Homo sapiens: one gene and its partner. The protein of the gene in region 1 interacts with the protein of each later gene in a pairwise test. Each region holds a gene or a part of one and is shown in the gene's direction. Other genes may lie near its edges.

The links. Proteins that work in one complex are often made in the same cells at the same time.
Region 2: the proteins of FAM13C (region 1) and CCDC172 interact in binary tests that used the Homo sapiens proteins (3 or more experiments, as listed by UniProt).

Annotation. Positions count from the first base shown.
Region 1 is NC_000010.11:59,359,539-59,366,765, reverse strand, and holds the start of FAM13C (protein FAM13C), read left to right. Parts: upstream 1-4,216; 5' UTR 4,217-4,305; coding exon 4,306-4,367; intron 4,368-4,382; exon of another isoform or gene 4,383-4,867; intron 4,868-5,655; exon of another isoform or gene 5,656-5,740; intron 5,741-7,227.
Region 2 is NC_000010.11:116,327,435-116,334,470, forward strand, and holds part of CCDC172 (coiled-coil domain-containing protein 172), read left to right. Parts: intron 1-7,036.

The DNA of each region.
Region 1 (7,227 bases):
CTGGGCACCTTTGAATCTTCAGGAGCTCAGTTACTGACCACTCAGATAATAAGGACTCTTGATATGCTGTCCTCATTGGAGCTGGTGAAGAAATAGATTAGGGGACAGGGATGGGAAGAAGTTTTTTTTTTTTTCTTTTTTTGTGGAAAAAAAATTATCTCTTCAGGCAAGAGTCCTCTCTTTCACAAGGAAGCCTGGTCATTCCCAAGGGTACTGACAGGAAGCTACAAGTCACTCTGTCCAGGCCAATAGAGCAGGCCTCTGTTGATTTCCTGGCATTGTAAAGATTCTGGCTTCTTGCCCCAGCATCTTGCAGAAAGTGATTTCTCAGAATTGTCTGTTCCTCCAGGGATGCGCAAGTATTTTAAATTGAAGAGTTGTAAACTGAGCACAAAGCCAATCTGGATGAAACCCATTTCATCCGGAGCAGCCCATCCGCATTTAGTAAAGTTTTAAATTTTATTGTTCTTAAAAAAAAAAAAAGCTGTGTAAACACTGCGCCATCATAGGAAGTAGAAAGAAAATATCATCTGTAAGCCTCCTCTTCAAGCACAGTGGCATTGTTCATCTTGTCTCAAGCTTTGTTTATATATTCTTATTTATTATAATAATACTAATGAAAATAAGGATAATTAGCAGCATTTATTTACTATTTTTTAAATTTGTCAGGCATGTCATTTAATTTAATCTTCATAAGAACCCATAAAATAGGTCATTATTATCTTTATTTTACAGATGAGAAAATTGAGGCAAAAGAGGTTGTTCATGTTTAAACTATTAGTAAGCGGTGGGTCTTGAGTCTTGGCAAATCTGGAAATTTCTTTCTTGACCTCTACACTGTTGCTTTATATTTTGCATATAGTCAAGTCAATACATTAGAATTAACAATTTTACAATTAAACTAAACTATTGGTATTAGATCTGATATTCAGATATTGGTTTTAGAGCACTGATAGAAAAATGAGCATTTAAAATTGAGCACTTTTAACATGTTAAGTGAATTAACCATATTCAAATCTAGCATCTTCATTTTTCCTTTATTTTACTTATATTGTATACAATAGAATTGTACATATAATATACATTATGTATTTTACATATATAAATATGCAATATATTTATATTAAAAATGTTATGATGTCAGGGACTGTGTCTGTCTTATTCATAACTATGGGATAGTGATAAGCATGTAGAATCATTTGTTCATTCATTCGTTTAATAAATATACCACTTAATTCCCTTTGCATTTTTTTCCTGATATATTCAGGAGTTATTTTCTCAAAATTCCTAGTTATACATGATGCTAATTGATGATATATTTAACAAAAAATTATTTTGGTCTTCAATGAATTTGAGGAACACTGTTAAAAACAGATGAAAAACTTCTCTTTGCTACCTAATGTGCATTGTGAATTTATAATATGCATCTTTTCCAAAACTTATTTTTGACCATGTAACTTTTAAAACATTTTCCTGGATTTTCTGGAGACTAGAATTTCACTGCCACTTGGGAAATACTGGCCTAGAACTTACTTCTTCATAAACTCAATATTAATTTTTCTGCTCCCCTTTTCAAACCCTCCTGGAATTGTTCTTTAGTAAAGCTGAGGGTCTCCAAAATAATCATATGTTGTACGATATTCATCAGTATTGTCCTATTCCAAGTTGAACAGTACAAAACATCATAAAAGCCAATTAAAAAGCCACTTACAAAGACAATTTCTAAACCTGATTTAAGATGAAAACAAATGTCATAAGAATTAATTGAGAAGTAAAAATTAAAATGGTTGATTTTGTTATATACTGCCAAATAATGTTTTTTCAGGGATGTTTTGGTTTTTATCCATAATCAACTGTATCAACCAGTTGTTTTCATTGTATGTGGGTACTGCCTAAAACCTAATTTTGGTCCTTCCTATTCACGAGTTGCTGAGAATTTTTATTTCTTTTCCTTGGACATTATTGAATACTTGCATTTATTGGGTACATTTGTTATTTCATTTTATTTTCAAAGGGCCCAATTCATTTCATAGAATGAAAAAAAAACAGTATTTGGCAGTATATAAGAAAATCAACCATTTAATTAAGGTTGTTCTTAATTAAATGTCCAAGTCCTATTTCAAATTAAAAGCATTGAACATTTCCATTACAAGTGGATCACTGGGAGTATTTATAGGAGAAAAGTGTGATCTTTCTCCACACTGGAACACTTGGAATAAACACCATAGTCAATGAGTACAAGGGGTTTCTGGAAATTAACAACCATATGGGAAATTAACAACCATGTAATCTATGAAACCATAAGTCAGTCAGAAGGCTGAATATAGACTTACCTTCATCAGTCTGAATAAACAAAGAACAGATCTCACTTTGAAATGGCTAAATAATGAATACAGTGAAGCAGCGATGTCTCTTACTCCTGAACCTAGCTCAAATGAAATAGTAGGTGGCTTCGGAACAAATATGTACTGTATAGTTATACATACAAAGGATTAATATTCCTGAACTTATTTTAGTCCATAGAATTCAGTCTAAGACCATATTAGGTTTTTATTTAGCTGATTTTAAAAATATTTGGAGAGAGGAAAGCAAAATTGCAAAGAACCTTAATGAAACCTGTTTTTCTTTGAAAACTCAATTTTTATTTTTCAAGGTATAAATTTAAAAAGTTAAAATACAACTCTCATACAAACATAGGCAGGCAGCAGAGATCTATTCACTTATTAATGGGGAAAACTGTAAGATGATGAAGCTGGTTCCAAAAGCATTTTGAGGATCTGTGGATTTACAGGTATTTAGAAAGAAAGTTTGGTTAGATGCAAAATGATTATTTGGTTAGATGCAAAATTGGTTATCTTCCTATATTGCAATAAAATCATAAACGCTGCGATTATCTTTTTCTCTGAACAGGCTGAATAAAATGTGCAAGTGACCACAGAACTTCACTGTGGCTGGAATCTAATCAATAGTGAAGAGCAAAGCCAAACACAACTGGAGAATTAACTGGCCCCTGGGTGGACTTGTTAACCGATGTCTCAGTTTGACATTGAAAGGTCATGCTCTTCCCCATTATTTCCAAGTTTTGGTAAAGTTTTTAATTGCCCAATTAGAAAAATTATGAGTTTTTTGTTGTTATGTTAACTCATTAACTTACATAGGTTTGGACTAAAAACCACTATCCTAGCTGCTTCTGGGAGTAGAAAGATTAAAAAGGGGGATGGGAATCTTATTTCAAAATTCAAATAAAATAATTCAAATTCAAATAAGAATCTTTAATAGATGCTACATCCCATATCCAGGTCAACATGGCAGGAGAAATGAACAATACAAAGAGGGCAGAACAAATATCCCCAAGGGAAAGAAGCCAGTGGGGGGACTGACAGTCTTTCCTTTCCCTAACAAGGCTGCCTTTATTCAAAGGGATAGCGTTTGCGGATTCCGTCTCTCCATCCTTTGTAAAGGTGCTAGCTAGGGAGCTGAGCTCAAGCGGGCTGCTCTAGGCATAGCAAGCCCCACCCCTTGCACGGTGTCCTAATCACCAGCTAACCCCTGGAATAAATTCTCCACTCGCCCTGCGTGGGTTCATTCACAGCTCTGTAGTCCGGGGCTGGGCGCTTCCTCTCTGGGACTGAAATAAGAGCGCTCTAGACAGATCAGGTGTGATGCAGCCAGCCCTGCTTTAGAGCCTATTCTTTTTCCTAGGCAACAAAAAACACACACACAAAATAAAACACCAAACAGCAGCAATATCCCCCTCCCCCTTCTTGTTCTCTCCTGACTTTTTCTGAACGATGGATGAATCTCTGCGAGCCTCCATCCCTGGGGGTGGGGTGGGAGTGTGGGGGGTTGGGGTGAGCTCTGTAAAATTGGTAGGAGACATGTGGAAGAAAGCAAGTCTCCCGGGTATTTCAGCACTTCGGCAGAAACACTGGGGCATTCTCATTGCCAGCCTCGGGGGGTGGCTGGCACAAAGAGCCCAAGATTAAACGCGGCGCCTGGGCTGGCGAGGTCGGGGTCGTGTGGTAACTCTCCAGGTGCTCCTCGCTGGATCCCGGGGTCCCAGCCCCGCCGCCGCGCCCCGCCCAGCTCTGTCCCCGCAGCCTCGCGGGCTGCCGGGCTTTGTGGTTCGCCCGTGCCGCTGGGCCCCTGCTGGGGGTGTCGTTACGAGCATGTGCAGACAGCAGCCCAAGGTAGAGCGAGCGTGCCGGGCGAGCCCGGAGACTTGCCTTGCAATGCCATGTTTGTGTATGTGCTCTAACTCCCGGAGAGCAATCAGGGAGACGGCTCCCCGGCCAGACTTGGCTGATGTTTTCTTGTTTCTGTTTCAGCCTTCAGGATAATTCCTTCAGCAGCACCACTGTAACAGAGTAAGTGATTCTTACCATTAAAATTAGACTTGCATGCCTTTCTCTGGAAGCAACTATCGTGAAGGTATCCTCCACCGTTCCCAGCCGCTGTTCGTTTTAGATGCATTGTCTCCCGGAATCTGGGGCTGTGAAGACCGTGAGACGTGCTGACTGGTGGGGCCCAGAAATCTTTACAGGTTGAAACCAGCATTTTAGCAGCTGCGGGAGAGAAATTAAAACCAGCTGATTGCTTGCAGGAGCTCAGTGCTCCAAGATATGTGTTCTTGGAGCTCAGATTTTTAAAAATCCATTTGATGTGTTAGGAAGCTTTGTTGTATTTTGCCAACATTGGTGTCAGTTTTCATGGAGTGCACACTATATACATTTACAGCAATAGAAGATAGATGTGAAATGAGCTGAATTCCAGCATGTGGTAAACAGGCTAAACTTATCTTGGCCCTCTCTTGTCTACAGATTTTTAAGGCATATCAGAGTAAACTTTTTGTGCATGCCCTTTGTCATGTTTGTCTTCTGACTACAGAGATGTGACTATGGGACGAATGAGTCACCTAGTCCTATGGTTAAAGCTGTTGATTAGGGCAACTAACACCCTTCAAACATGGAATGAAGGAGTGTGAATGAAGGAGCGTACCAGCAAGCACAGTATTTTTTTAAAGATATTTATATGCTATAGTTTTAATTTTTGACATCCCTTCCTTAATGTTTTCCTAATATTATACTATATTTGTTAAAAATTAACAGGTAGTGTATTTTGCTAATACTGTATGTAATTTATATATACATATATATATATGAATATGTACTTCATCTAGCATTCTTTCTCTAGGCTAATTCATGATGTTTACTTCTGGGACCTTTGTAGAAGCCACTCTAAACATCTTTTCAGGAAAAAGGCATGTGTAAAGTTGTATCCTCAACTACATTTAAAAAATGTTATGAGTTTGATGTAGAAGGCTTAACTAACTGGGGAGCTGTTTGCTAAAATTCCCTAAAAAGCAAATAAATGTTTTGCTTTTGGCTTCCAAGTCCTGCCACTATCACAATGACTTGGTGAGGGAGGGATAAGGTTTACAGTGCTTCCTAGGCCCTCTTGTTTTCCACATTCTTTTGTTTCTCTCTTTTGCTGTGCTGCTCCTTTAGTGTCCAGTTTTGAGCAGACTTAAGTGGAGTCACTTAAAAAAAAAAACAGGATTGACTTTAGAAGAAGCAATGTAAAATACTCATTTGGACCCACATTCTGTTTATAAGATTGCTTGGTAACCTGTGCTGCAATGTTGCTTTTCTAAAGGCCTGAGAGAAGGGGAGAGAGGTGTGCCAAAGTGTGCATCTGCAGGCCGAAGATGAGGCCTGGACTTCCTGCTCCAGGTGCACAGGTACTGCTCTCCTCCCTTTGCTGTGCTTAAAGTACTAAGTGCTTTCTGGCCCCGATTCTCAGGAGCCTGGTGTGGCCAAATCCTCGGTCAGTCACAGGCACGGCAGGTTCAAAATGGAGACACTTAGCTCCAGATTTCACGTGGACTTTTTTTTTTTTTTTTTTTTTTTTTTCTGTAGAGGTTTCGTGGTTAAATGCTGGGGAGAGCCTGGTGCCTTGTCTTTGGACACTCCCCAAGGAGTTCTGATTGCATAAGATCATGTTTTTACTTTCAGAGGAGTGACAGTGATTTATTTTAAAAGGCACTGAGAGATAATTGGTATGCCATTTGGCTAATATAAAAATCTAAGGAGCCTATTGAGAACATACCAAAAGCTTCATAGGTATAACACATCATTGACTAGGACTGTTTAAAACTAGTCATTGCCACAATAACATTTTCCCCTCACCTCAGTAATATGACCCATATCCCGTGCTTCTCTGGGCATGACCCCATAGCCCTCAGGACCAAGGTGCTATATCCTGAGACACAGACATAGCAGGTTCTCAGGAAATGTTTGGGTGTGGTCTTGGCCTACACGGAGGAGGGACTTTTCTCCCCTCTATGTTCTGGATACAAGAAGAGCTCCTCTGCCTCCTGTCCCCACCCCATTCCTACATCCTTCTACTCACACCCACTTATTTTCTTCGATGCCTGAAATTTCACCTAGAGATGATTTCTTTGGATGAAGGCCTCTGGTAGTGACCCTTATTAAATTGGAAATTAAAAAGTTTGTGCCCTTGGGAAGTGGATTCAAATTGTCATGAATACTTTAATATGAATTATTTTACCTAACCTATTTTCTAACCTGTTATGGTTATGGTTATGCTTGGCCAGCTGGGAGTCCTAGAAGAGTCAAGGGGAAAGGGAAATTGGGAGGGACTCAAGGACAGATTTTATTTTCTTCTTGGTTTTTCCCAGCCCTGGCACTATCTATGCAGCTCTAGACAAATTCAATTTCTTTTTCCACCCCAATGTTTTCATCACAATGGCCTTGGCCTTTTCTTCCCTATCTGTGGCACCTTTTCATCTAATATTTTTCCATGGTCAATCGTGACATTGCCCCAGCTAACTTGCTATTTTAAATGAAGCCTGCAATAATTCTGATTAGTTATCATTCAAACCAGTGGTTCTCAAAGCTAACTGATCATCAATATCAACTGGGGAAGGGGACTGGAGCTTGTGAAAATTGCAGTCTCCCAGGTTTTATCTCAAAGTGGGAACCCAGAATGGGTGATTGTATTGGTGTCAGGACAGTGCTGTTTTGGGGTTTGGAAACCTTTAGGTCAGTGTTAAATGTTTAGAAACATAGTAGTTCTATAGGTAGGCAGTCTGTTTTAAAAATCCACATTCCTGGGCTCTGCCCTCAGAGAGTTGATGTAGTGGGGCTGGAGACTTCTGTTTTGACCAGGTACTTCAGGTAGTGCTAATGCAAGGGGCCACATTTT
Region 2 (7,036 bases), about 57 Mb from region 1:
ATATATTTTTTAATGTTACTCTGTAATATTTTCTTTGTTAGCAAAGTTTTGTTTTGTCTGCAAATGGAAATGTAATTTGTTGATATATACACATACATTAAAAAATGTTGATTCAGTTGTTTTTACTAGAAAGAAGACAGAAAAGGCCTACCATTGTTTAGAAACATTTGTTGAAATTACTAATTAATATAGGTTCATAAGCATGCATTGCTTTTTAACCAGCTCATATATGTGGGTAATAATACATTTGTATCTTACTAATAAAATTAACATATGAGGGTCACAGTTCATACAATACTAATTTATAACTGAAATAGTTTGATTTGTATTATAGTCAAGATGGTATGTATATGTGCATAAAGATTTTAAAAGTGGAATCACAATTATAATGCATATGACTAATGGGAAGAACTGAAGAACTAATCCTAAATTGATTTCTTGTTTCTTTTATTCTGAGTTAATTATATGTCTGCCAATAACAATGAAAATATATTTACTTGAATATTTGACTTGGCATTTATTGACCCATTTATCAAACAGTAGCAGCACAAGGAGAAACTATTAATAGAACATAATTTGAATAGAGCAGTGCTTGAGCTATTGTACAGTCATACATTCAGAAAATTTGGGGGGCATTTATTTTGGATGTTGTTTCTGGTCAATAAATGTATTTGGGAAGTACAGTATTCATTTTTTTTCTTTTATGTAAAACCCGGATAGCATGTAATTAGAACTTGAATGATAGCATTTGCCTTGCAGGGCTCAATGAGTCTTTTAAAATATATGGTTGCAAAAGTCTCAGGTTATATAGTATGAGTACTTTATGAATTGGACAGCTACACTATGCCTGGTTAGGTTTGGTAATATGAAAACAGAAAAATGAGAACATGCCCTGGATTTGCATTCATGCTTACCAATACATCCAAAACTTCTGATAGTTAAGGAAAAGTTGTATAGTATTGATGACAGGGCAAACCAAAATTAAGGACTGACAGAACATTGGTAGTTTCTTTTAAACATCTAAAAGAGCTTCTTCTATTTTTAAAAATGGCATATAATTAAAATTTTGACATTTAATTTTTATAAACATATTACATAAAACTCAATATAATGCCATATTCCCTTAAGAGGGAGTAAATGGAGGAAAATCTGAGGCTATTTTGTGAATATTTTGTTTATTTTTTCTGTTTCCAATTTTAACTTGTGTAAACACCATAACAATAATAAAAGAATATTTCATGAATTTTTAAAGGAAAATTGTATTGAAATTAAAAAGTAACTTAAGGTGGCCCCATTTACTTCTTTACCTCAATATGTATGTGTTCTTTTATTTTAATTGGTAAAAGTTAGGAAACCTCCAGAACAGCAGGCAAAGTCATATCCTTTAGTACTGTATTACCTAATTGGAGAAAGAACAAAATCACAAATTATTATCATTTATAGTATTGAAATGGAGTTTTGTAATTGGAGTGCTTTTTTCTTTCTTTACACTTAATCAAAAAAATTTAGATCCTACCAATATTTAATTTTATAGTTGGCAATTATTCATTCAACAAACATTCATTGAGCAACTGCTAAATCACACTATGAATACTTGGCAAATAAATTATATAACACCTTCCTTCCTGAATTACAGGATTGACATCAAGCAATTTCAACTATATAAACCTAACTGTAAACTCAAAATTTTTGAAGTTCTCATTTAAAGAAAAAATTTGTTTCCATTTTCTCTATGAAATTCTATAAAGAAAGCCTTATCATGTTTGTCATGAGTAATTATCCAAAACTTGGAAATAGGCAAAAAAGGTCACTGAGTGTCCTTTGAGTATTGTATTAGACATTGTCCAGTAGCTCACCTTCCTGAGGACAGTCAGGTTTATGGGGGTGTGAACCTTTGTAATGGGCTGTTTTTTCTTGGATATGCCAATCATTCTTTGACCCCAGGGCCTTTGCACTTGCTGTTTCCTCTGCTTGAAATGCTGATTCCATTAGCTGTTATTCTGTCATGCACGCTCACTTCATTTAGATCTCTCCCAGTAGAATCATGTGGGACTTTTAGTGCTAACACTAGGACAGCCCCATGCAAATCTTGATGGTTGGTTAGCCTAAGTCTCTGCTCAGTTGTCACCTTAGAGCATTATTCTTAAAGTGTGATCTCTGAGTTCAAAGGGGTCCCCAAGACACTTTCAGGGAGTTTGTAAGGTCAAGCTATTTTTATGATAATACTATACAAAGGTACCATTTGCCATCTTCTCTATGTTAATGCACACATTGACAGTGCAAAAGCAGCAGTGAGTAAAACTCTTAGCACCTTAACACAAATCGAGGTGGTGGCACCAAACTGTACTAGTAGTCATCTCGTATTCTTCACTGCCATGCACTCTCAGTAAGAAAACAAAAACCGCTAGTTTTACTTAATGTTTTGATTGAAGTGTCAAAAATATTAATTTTATTGGAACTGATCATTGAGTATATTCATTTTCAATATTGTGTACGATCACATGGGTGGTACATCTAAAGTACTTTTATATTCCGAAGTGCCACGATTGTCTCAAGAGAGAGCATGTGTGCAGTTGTTTGAGATGCAGTATGAGCTAGCTATTCTTTTTCTGAAACGCCATTTTTACTTAGATAATTGACAGTCAAGTTGTAGTTATTTAGATTTGGGTGTTTGGCAAAATTTTCTGAAAAATAAATGAAGTAAGCCTAAAATGTCAAGGCAAACATCTGACATTCTTCTTATTATTTTGCCAATGATAATATGCAAGCTTTCAAACAAAAATTAGAATTTTGGAGGATTCCTATCTATCTTGGCAGCTTGGCAGCTTCCTGGTACTTAAAGATTTTTCTGGTGAGTTCGTTAGTGATATTAATGAATATGAATGTTACTTTTGAAGCAGTATGTTTCAAGATGTTTCAGAATGTTACTTTTCAAAGCATATTATGAAATATATCAACATTTGGAGGATCTGCATAATTCAGGGAAGCAGTAAGTAATGCATAAAGTTACAAAACTGTGCATAGATAAAAGGTAGACTCAAAGTGCAATGTAGACCAATGGATTTTATTATAACATAGAATGAAAAGTTCATTGAAACGGCTTCAGATTCCACATTGCAACTAACCTTTAAGGAGCTACCACATGGTGAATTTTGATATAGTATCAAAGAAGAATATGCACAATCATTTCCAACTACATATCTGTGCACTCCGTATTCTCCAACTGAAAAACGTATTACAAAAGATTGAGTAGAAGCAGATATGAGAGTCCAGCTATCTTCTTTTTTAATTTTTTGTTTTTATTTATTTATTTTTAAGAGACAGAGTCTCACTCTGTTACCCAGATTGGAGCTCAGTGGCACAACAACAGTTCACTGCAACCTCAAACTCCTGGCCTCAAGTGATCCTTCTGCTTCAGCTTCCTGAGTAGCTGGGACTACAGGCCTCTGCCACCCTACCTGGCTAATTTAAAAAATATATTGTTTTCTAGAGACAGGGTCTTGCTATTTTGCCCAGGCTAGTTTTGAACTCCTGGCCTCAGGTGATCCTCCCACTTTGGTCTCTCAAAGTTCTGAAATTACAGGCGTGAACCACCAAACCTGGTCTCAGCTGTCTTCCATTAAGCCAGATGTTAATGAGATTTGTAAAAAATCTATATGCAACTCCTTTTTCTAATTTGTTTTTGTTTTGGAAAGTCATTTTTCAATACAAATGTGGTATTTAAAATGCAATAGGATTATTGTTATTAAATTAATGTTTAAAAATTTTTCAGTTTTAATTTTGATACAGAAAATATTTCTAGATATAATTCATGAAAACAATCAAACAAAAAGAAATTCTCAATAATTTTTTAGACTATGAAGAGGTCAAAAGACCCAAAAATTTGAGGCCCCCTCTCTGTAGAGGCCCCTCCCTGACCTCCCTATATAAAATAGCATTACCATCTCTCCCTGTCTCTATGCTGTGTGATATGTACCACCTCTTGGCATATTTTATATTGATCTGTTTATTATTTGTCTCCCTCCAGTGGAATGTAAGCTCCACAAGGGATAGAAATTAATCTATTTTGTTCATTGCTGTTATTCCCAGCATCTAGAACAGTGCCTGAATAATAGTAGGTATTAAACAGACATTTAGTGAGTGAATAAGTTAAAATTTTTCTCATAGAATCCTGTTTTCTATTTTCCTCTGCCTTGAATTCTACTTGTTTGATTTGATGCCTTTCTTACATGGTGGTAGATTTTCTTATTAACTTTAAGATTTATTATTGATTTTATTTTATTGAACTTATCTTTAGAAGAACTTATCTCTCCTGGCTGTTCGACATATTCCTTTGATAGAAAAGATGTCCCTAAGAAGCAGTTTCACCCCTGCTGCCAGGGCCTCACAGGTTTCCCCTGTTAAGGACCAGTTTTTATGTTAAATTCTGAGCTCAAGATTTCTGCACTGTATGGATAAGAGAATCTCAGGGTTCAAATTCTCAGGATATGACTCGTTTTCCACTCATGGCTCAATGGGATATAGCTCACTTATACACTGCATCTCTAGGGCAACAGGTGGAGTTTTTTATCCATCTTTCGTAACTGGCATAGATATTTCTCAATTCCTGGCAGTACAATGAGTCCAACCCTGGCTCTCTTTGCCTGTGATTTTTGTTCTTATGTGGGCATTTAAAGCCTAATCCCTAATGCCTGTATCCTTTCTGAAAGATGCTCCTGTGGGCTTGAATTTTATCACCATCCTTACACTGAGCTGTCTATTTGTTTCTTGCATGAAGATTTCCCTCCTCCTTTTGGCTTAGCTATGTAAATGATAAATATTTTAAATGTAGTTAGATTTTATCTAGCATTTCTCTTTGTTTGGAGTAGAAAGTAAGTCCTTTCTACTTTTGCTTTTACTGCCATATTAACCATAATTCTGCACTATAAAACTCTTCAATGCCTCACGTTGTCATTCTTGAGTTCTTATTTTTTTATTTGTTTTTTGATGAGTCTGTAATTGTAATTTTGTAGGAGGAAGTTGTGAATGACAGATCTTCTAAGCTATTAATATCTGAAATTTCTGTTATCTTCACACTTGCATGGAAACTTGTCTGTACAGAATTATTGAGTCAAACCTTTTTTTACAACATTTTGTGGATCTAGCACTATTATATTCTGAAATTTATTAATGCAGAAGAGAAGTATTGAAGTCAACCTGGTTTTTAAAAATCCTATTTTAAGGTAACCTGTTAGGTTTTGTTTTCTTCCCTGATTGCTTTTATGATTTTAAACAATCTATAATTCCAAATTTGGTACAGATATGGTTTTTTTTTTCTGGAACAAGGGTGAGCCTTCCATTTTAACCTCAGCTATTATTTCATAGAGTTTGTTTTCAATACACCCATTTCTTATAATTTAGAAGAGCTTTATTCTCTTTTCTCTGAATTGAATCCTCAGAAGTCTGGGAAAACTTTGTATCCTTTACATCCCTAATTCTATTTTTTGCAGTATTAGTTTTAGTTATTTAATGCTCTCTGCAAATTTAAATCATGTGTTGTCTTCTCTTTTTTAACACTCTAATTTTTAAAAATTTCAGCTTGTTCTGTTTTTATCTTTCTCTGCTATGTCCTTCCTTGCTCTTGTTTTCTAGTGGACATGTCTTTGTTTGCATCCTTTTAAGAACAGTAAGTAATTGATTACAATTTTTTTTTCATCCTGTGCTCTTCACTGTAATCTTTTGGATAATTCTCTTTATCTCTTCTGTTAACAGTATTTTTCATAGGGTTCATGTTGTTATTCTGTGAGATTTGTTCAGACCTGCAATTTGCCTATAAATACAATATATAAATTGTTTTTTGTCCTGTTCTCATTTTCTTGAATACTGGAAGAATCAACTACTTTCTTAGAGCTAAAGCTGATTGACAAGCTGATGTGAGTACCCCCAGCCCAATTTCTAGTGTTCTTGTAGTGTAGCTTTATTGCCTGAGATATGATTATTTCTTGCACATGTGCCAAGTTTTCTTATTTGTTGAGGAAGATGTATGTTTTAAAGAATGTGTGACATTTTATAGTTCTTCCATTAAAAGCAGTGCATGAATAAACACTACCTCAGCATCCCTTTGTTTTGTATCCTAAGATGTGTGGTGATAGGTAAGGTAAGGTACTGCCACCTGAGTTGTCAAATAACACAGAAGTTATCTTACTTTAAAGTTGCTCCCCAGGAAGAGTCTTTCAGATTAAAACGTATCAGTACAAGATGTTCTTGACCGGTCAGTATTTGTGCTTTGCTGGTCTTTCCCTAATCAGATTACTGTCTCGCTGAGATGAGCAGCTTTGGAGGAATAGGAGTTTTATTTGAGGAAAAGAGGAAGAATAATTTTGCAGTTTAGGGGTTATTTTGAAAAGAGTTGACTGTGGACTTTGGAACAGGAGGTGAGTTCTGAAAAGGTGAGTGGGAAGGATCAAAGGCAACTGGCGACTTACAGCTGTACCTGTGATCTGATGCTGATAGGAAGAATTTCTCGTGTAGGCTTTGTTGCATATATGGTCTCATGGATTGTTATTGCCTGAATTCATATTTCAAGATAAGTTAAAAGGCTGTATACCTCAGTTTCCTTTGTTCAGATGAGTTCCACAGTTTCAAATGTAGTCTAATTTCTTCTGGTTAAAAATTCCTCCCAAGAGAGATAGAGGAAGGAAAGGGAGAGATGGGACCACCACAGTGAGCAAATGGATCAGATTATTACTCTAAAATGTTCTTTTCGTTCTGAGCTCCCGCTCCTCCCCGTCTTTACTAAGATTTCTCGCTTATGTTCCTACTGGAAAAGTGGGTTTTATTCCTGGGAAATTCTGAGGCCTTCTACCATTATATTTGGTGAACATGCAGTAGATTACTTTTCAAAATTAAGATAGTTTGATTGTTTTAACTCTTTATAAAAGTAGTGTTTATTTATTGCAAATTATTCCAAAAATAGAAATTGGCAAAAAGCAGAGTGAAAATCACCTATAATTCCACCACACGGTTAACATTTTCATAGGTTTTCTTTCAAAATTGT